Regions from separate parts of the Homo sapiens genome. Here region 2 is linked to region 1. Evidence: fine-mapped expression QTL. A gene starts in region 1. The other region holds a variant in brackets. All regions are shown on one strand. Distances are from middle to middle.

The links. PIP is the estimated chance that this variant, and not a neighbour inherited with it, causes the effect. A credible set is the group of variants that fine-mapping cannot tell apart.
Region 2: its variant is the best candidate, but not a certain one, in a credible set for the expression of SBF1 in whole blood (TOPMed, PIP 0.77).

Annotation. Positions count from the first base shown.
Region 1 is chr22:50,473,852-50,476,742 of GRCh38, reverse strand. It overlaps SBF1 (SET binding factor 1), which reads left to right and starts at 1,708. Exons shown (of 41, transcript NM_002972.4): 1 at 1,708-1,957. The coding sequence starts at 1,903. RefSeq lists enhancers at 546-1,455, 2,366-2,891 and silencers at 1,552-1,756, 1,337-1,796, 2,217-2,346.
Region 2 is chr22:50,300,528-50,303,418 of GRCh38, reverse strand. The region is part of intron 1 of PLXNB2 (plexin B2); the gene reads left to right. Among named protein-coding and RNA genes, the nearest start is that of PLXNB2, 5.7 kb to the left of the region's middle. RefSeq lists a silencer at 1,679-1,728 and enhancers at 1,866-2,422, 2,423-2,891. The variant C/T (reference allele first, on the strand shown) is at 1,285.

The DNA of each region.
Region 1 (2,891 bases):
AACTTATCAAGACCCTGTCTCTACAAAAAAATTAAATTTTAAAAAGATGATTTCTCAACCTGTGAAAACCAACAGTGGGAGAGGAGAGGCGTAGCGTGGCCTGTGCCTGAGGGCAGGGAGGGGACCCTGGTGGGGCCTCTCAGTTTGATTCCATTCATTCTCTTGGGCTGGCTCCTGCCCATGGATGGAGACTGGATGCCAGTCATTTGGCCAGTTCTTGCAGCAGCCAAACTCATTTAAAAACAGACCTTCAGGGCCAGGCGCGGTGGCTCACACCTGTAATGCCAGCACTTTGGGAGGCCGAGATGGGCGGATCACGAGGTCAGGAGATCGAGACCATCCTGGCTAACACAGTGAAACCCTGTCGCTACTAAAAATACAAAAAATTAGCTGGGCGTGGTGGCAGGTGCTTGTAGTCCCAGCTACTCGGGAGGCTGAGGCAGGAGAATGATGTGAACCTGGGAGGCGGAGTTTGCAGTGAGCCAAGATCACGCCACTGTACTCCAGCCTGGGCGACAGAGCGAGACTCTGTCTCAAAACAAACAAACAAAAACAAACAAAAAACAAAAAACAGACCTTCGGGCTGGGGGCGGTGGCTCATGCCTGTAATCCCAGCACTTTGGGACGCCATGGTGGGTGGATGGCCTGAGGTCAGGAGTTCAAGACCAGCCTGGCCAACATGGTGAAACCCCCTCTCTACTAAAATACAAAAATTAGCCGGGCATGGTGGTGCACACCTGTAATCCCAGCTACGCGGGAAGCTGAGGCGGGAGAATTGCTTGAACCCAGGAGACGGACGTTCCAGTGAGCCAAGATGGTGTCACTGCACTTCAGCCTGGGTGACGGATTGAGACTCTGCCTCAAAAACAAAACAAAACATAACAAAAAACAGACCTTGGCCTGCTGTGCTCAGAGGGGTTTCCCTGCTGCACCAGGCTGGCTCCTGCACCTTCTCTCCCAGCATGTTCTGCTCTGGGCTCATGCTCATCCCTGAGCCACTTCAGGGGTGGCCCTGGCCAGCCCTGCCCTTGAGAGGGGTGGGCACTGTCAGGGATCCTGGGGGATGCAGCTTTCCCAGAGCCCCCTGCTCCGTGGCCTCATGTGCCTCACACGCTTAGAACATTTGCTCTTTACAGGGGGACATGAGCGTGCCGTTTTTAAGCTGTGTTAAATGTCTCACTTGGCCTAGATGGGGGCTCTTCAGCCTGGGACCCCAAGGGCAGGGCCTGAATTCTCTCTCTGTTCCCCATCGCCAGGCTGGCAGCCCCTGAGGTGATGGCCCTGCGCCTCCTCTGACTTCTAGTTTGGGGGGCCCGGTAGGCAGCGCCTAGGCTTCTCCCGCCTTTCTCCCGCTGGACAGAGAGGGGCGGGGGACGAGGAGTCTGGGGACCCGATCCCCAGATTGGGACGGCCCAGGGGTGGGGTTCGGGCTCCTGTGCGGGGAGTCCCAACGGCGAGGGCAGCTGTGGTCCTGGCCCATGCCTCCCGCCGACACCACAGCCGACCCGGGTCAGGGCGTCAGACCCGCCGGAGCCGTAGTCCAGGTGCCCGGCCCGAGGGGCGGTGCTCGGGCCCCAGAGTGGTCAGCGATGGGCGGGGCGCTGCTCTCGGGAGCCGCCCTCCCACCCTCTGGACCAATGGAGATGCGCGGTTGCAGGCCCCGCCCGCTCAGGGCTTGACGACAGCGCGCAGGCGCACGGCGCGCCCGGGCGGGCCGGCTGGCTGGGAAGATGGCGGCGGGAACCTGGGCCGCCGCCGCCGCCGCCGCCGCCGCCGCGGAGCGAACCAGGGGTGTCCGGGGTGCGCGGTCCAGGGCCGGGGCCGGGCCATGAGCGCGCCGTCCTCGAGTCCCCGAGCCGCGGAGCCCGCCCGCGCCCCTCGGGCCGCCCCGCGTCCCTCGCCATGGCGCGGCTCGCGGACTACTTCGTGCTGGTGGCGTTCGGGCCGCACCCGCGCGGTGAGTGCCGAGGCCAAGCGCTGAGGGCCGGGGGCCGAGGGTCGAGTGCTGAGGGCCAGGGGCTGGGTCTGAGGGTCGAGGGCCGGGGGCTGGGGGCCGAGGGCTGGGGGCTGGGTCGGGAGGCCGAGGACTGAGGGCCGGGCGCTGAGGGCCGAGGACCGGGGGCTGGGCGCTGAGGGCCGGGGTCGGGGGAGCCGAGGACTGAGGGCCGGGGCCGGGGGCCGGGCGGGGACTGAAGGCCAGGGCCGACCGGACAGCCCGTGGGGAGAATGGGCGTCCGCTGGGGGCGGCGTGGCCGCGCGGGCCTGGTGGCGGCAGGGAGAGAAGGCTGGGCCCGGCCTGCCCGGCCTCCTTGGGGTGGGACGGGCTCTCTCCTTGGCCAGCTGCGGGCGGCTGTGGCTCTAGTGGCTCCAGGGGCGCGGACCCGCGGCTCGCCAGCCCGCCTCTGACCTTGGTGCTCCGTCTGAAGCCCCCGGCGGTCTTGGCGGGGTGCAAAGAGGGGGTGGAGTTCGGGTTTGGTGCATGGAGAAGCGGTGTTTGATTTGAAACTGGGAGGATTTGAGGAGGAAGCGTCGAGAGTAGAGAGAAGAGCATTCCTGGCGACTCGCCTGACGGTCCAGGCCCTGCACGCCAAGCCCTGGGTGGGGTATCAGCGTGGCGGTCGGTGCCCATGCCCAGGAGGTCTGTGTGTGGGGTCAGCGCCCGTGTCTGAGAGCTCTTCAGCCCAGGAGGTAGGAGAAAACGGAGCCTGACGATGACATCAGCAACAGCCTGGAGACAGCAGCGTTGGCGAGCGTGCTTGGTGTGCCAGGCCCCGCACAGCCCTTTGTGTACATGATCTCACCTCTTCCTCCCAGCAGCCCACCGGGGTTGCCCTGGTGTTGCCCCCATCTGTAGAGAAGTTAGGCGCGGATAAGCTGACTGCCTGGCCTGA
Region 2 (2,891 bases), 170 kb after region 1:
TGGGCCCCCTGTCAGATTGGCGTCTGGGGGCACTGTCTGCTCCTTCCAGGCAGCTTTGAGGACTTCTCAGAGGAGGAACCCCCCTGCCCTGCTGGTCCAAAGTGGGGTGCTGAAGGCCGAGGCAGTTTCCAGGGGGCTATGCCTCAGGCTGCGTGGGTGGCTGTGGTAGGAGCGTGCTCTGTGATTGTCACTGCATTTGCCTGGGGTCCATGCTCTGTCCTCAGCTGGGGTCTGGCTTTGAACCTAGGTGAGTTCTGGGGCTCTGAGGACAGGCCAGAAGCAGGAGTGTGGGGGGGTCTCTCCTGGGGGAAGCAAGGGAGGCCTGGGCCTGTGTGACTCAGACGTGGTAGGGTGGCATGGGAGCCACAGCTTGGGGGGATGGCGGGGGGCTTGAGGGTAATCCAAGTATTTCAGGGACCCAGCCATGGAGAGTGGGGTTTGAGGACCAGCAGGAGGTGAGGACTCTGTGGATCCCAGCCCTGTCAGGTGTGTTTTCAGAGCTGGGGCCTGCTTTGGAGGAGATGGAGGGCACAGAACACTGCTGAGCCCAGGCCCTGTGCCCAGCCTTGCTCCAGCCTTACCGGCTTGACACCAGGGCCTCCCTCCCACCAGCGAGGGGGAGAAGCTATTTTAAGTGGAGCCAGCAGTTGACAGGGGCAAGGGGCAGGTGGTGGGAGGGAGGTGCTCCAGCATGGCCCCCCCCACTCCCTCTCAGCCTCAGAGATTGGCCAGGGGAGCTGAGGGGCTTGGCCTCCCCACTCCTATGTTGGCACCGAGCCTGATCTGGTGACCACCCTGAGGGACTTCAGGAGAAAAGGATGTTAGGGAGGAGGGCGTGAAGGTGGGGCGCCCCAGGCAGGCCGCCCAGGCCCAGCAAAGCTCGCTGGAGGGTCCCCCAGTTCCACATCTAGACCTGGGGCCCAGTGGCTCTCGACCAGGCCCTGTGGGGTTTGAAGTCCTCAGCTCCACCATGAGCAGAGCAAGCCTCCGCGTGGAGCAAGGGGCTGGACCTGGCCTCCAGGGGCACCCACCTCCCCACACAGCTCCAGCCACGGGCATCACCTCCCACTCACTGTCCTGCCCCCACTCTGAGATGGGCATTTCCTCACTGGGAAATCCCTGTCCCTCTGGCCTCCCAAAGCCCTGAGTGTTTGCCCCTGTGGGGCCCAGCCCACACCCTGGGCTGCCTCACCCTTGGCCTGGACCCAGGTCCTGCCCAACACCCTGTGCCTCACCAGCCCCCAGCTCATCCTGGGCAGACGCAGCCCCTCTCCCCTGCTGAGA[C/T]GGCCCTGCCCCCACCCCACTTCCCCATGCCACACATGGCCCCTCCCTCGGGGCTCCAGGCAGCGCTGGGTTCTGAGAGCCCCACTGCCCCTCTTAGCCCAAGTGCCCCGGCCTGAGGCTTCTCTCCCAGGCTCTTTGTACTGGGGACGAGTTCTGGGTGTTGGGGTGAGACCCTGTTGGCAGGGCTTTTCCGGCAGCACCCAGCCATGTGTGTCTGCACATGTGTGGTCATGTGTGCAAGTGGTGTCTGGCACACAGGCTTGGCGCGGTGCCCCAAGCTAATTGTGGGGTTCAGCGGTGATGGGCGAGGCGGGGCTGGGGTGACCGCTGAGGCGCTGACAGGCTGACGGGGAGATTACAGGCCTTGCTTACTGCTCACTGGCTGGGGCCTCACCCGTCCACCCCCCAACGCCCACCCCGGGGGTGAGAAGGGGGCTGTGGGCGGGGGCTGGTCTTGAGCCAGCTGCATCCAGGCAGGACCTGGTCTCTGAGCAGCCGGCTGCTGCGGGGTTGAGCTGGAAAGGGGGAGATGCGTGGGGGCCACTCAGAGGAGAGCCTGCAGGTGGGGCTGGGCACCGGCGGGCCGGGAGGCCTCCTTTCAGGAGAGACTCCAAGTGACTGAGCCCCAGAATCCCACGAGAGTCCCTCCGTGGCCGCCTGCTGTCTGACCGCATGTCCTGTCCTGATGAGTTGGTGGTTCCTGCTGTAGCCATCGGCCTCGTGTGCCCCGAGCGCCTGGCGGTGCCCACCCCTCCCACAGGAGGTCCTCAGGAAGCACGGAGACATCGGTAGGTTCATTGCGCTGCCCAGCTTTCTGACCCGAAGGACCACGGTGTAGCAAGAGGGGGCTGCAGCTGTGCCCAGGTTGGACAGGATGGGGTCTGGGACCCCGAAAGGGGTGGTTGAGGAGAGAGGTGGTTCTGCAGGCCTGGTGCGTGTGGGGACAGGGCGCCGTAGCCAACTGGATCCCACCTTCTGTCTGAGGGCTGGGGAGGACCATCCTCCAGATGCGCCAGTGGGCCGTGGCCAGAGAGGAGGCTGAGGAGGGCCTCACAACTGTGTGTAGGATGGGAGGGCAGCCTGGGGCCCCAGTCTAGGGACGCACCATATACAGGGGCTGCACTTGGTGCAGAGGCGGAGAGGGGGCTGGGGCAGGCCCCTTGGGCATGGCCAGGTGAGCTCAGGGGGTGCCTGAGGGCCAGGGCTAGATACAGAGGCCCTGGGTACCAGGTGGCCTGGGTGTGTCAGGAGGTGTGGACCAGTGGGGGCTGTGACTAACTCGGCTGGAGCAAGTGACAGGAGGAGCTGGGGCTTCATGGGGCACCCCCAGGATCCTGGGCTGGTGACCCCATCACTGCCACCAGCCAGGGTGACTTTTCCTGCTGGGACCCAGAGCCCAGACTGCAGGGGAGGCTGGCCCTAAGTAGGAACCCCACCCTGAAACCAGGCTGGCGGGGAAGGGGTGCGACGGCCTCCACCTGGGAGGGGTCCTCAGCCGAGAGTCCAGCGGGGACCGCTGTAGACGCTGAAGCGAGGCTCAGGCCTCCACATCAGTCTGTCCCTGGAGCCCCGCCCCGCCCCGCCCCGCCCCAGCTCCTAGGTCGGGT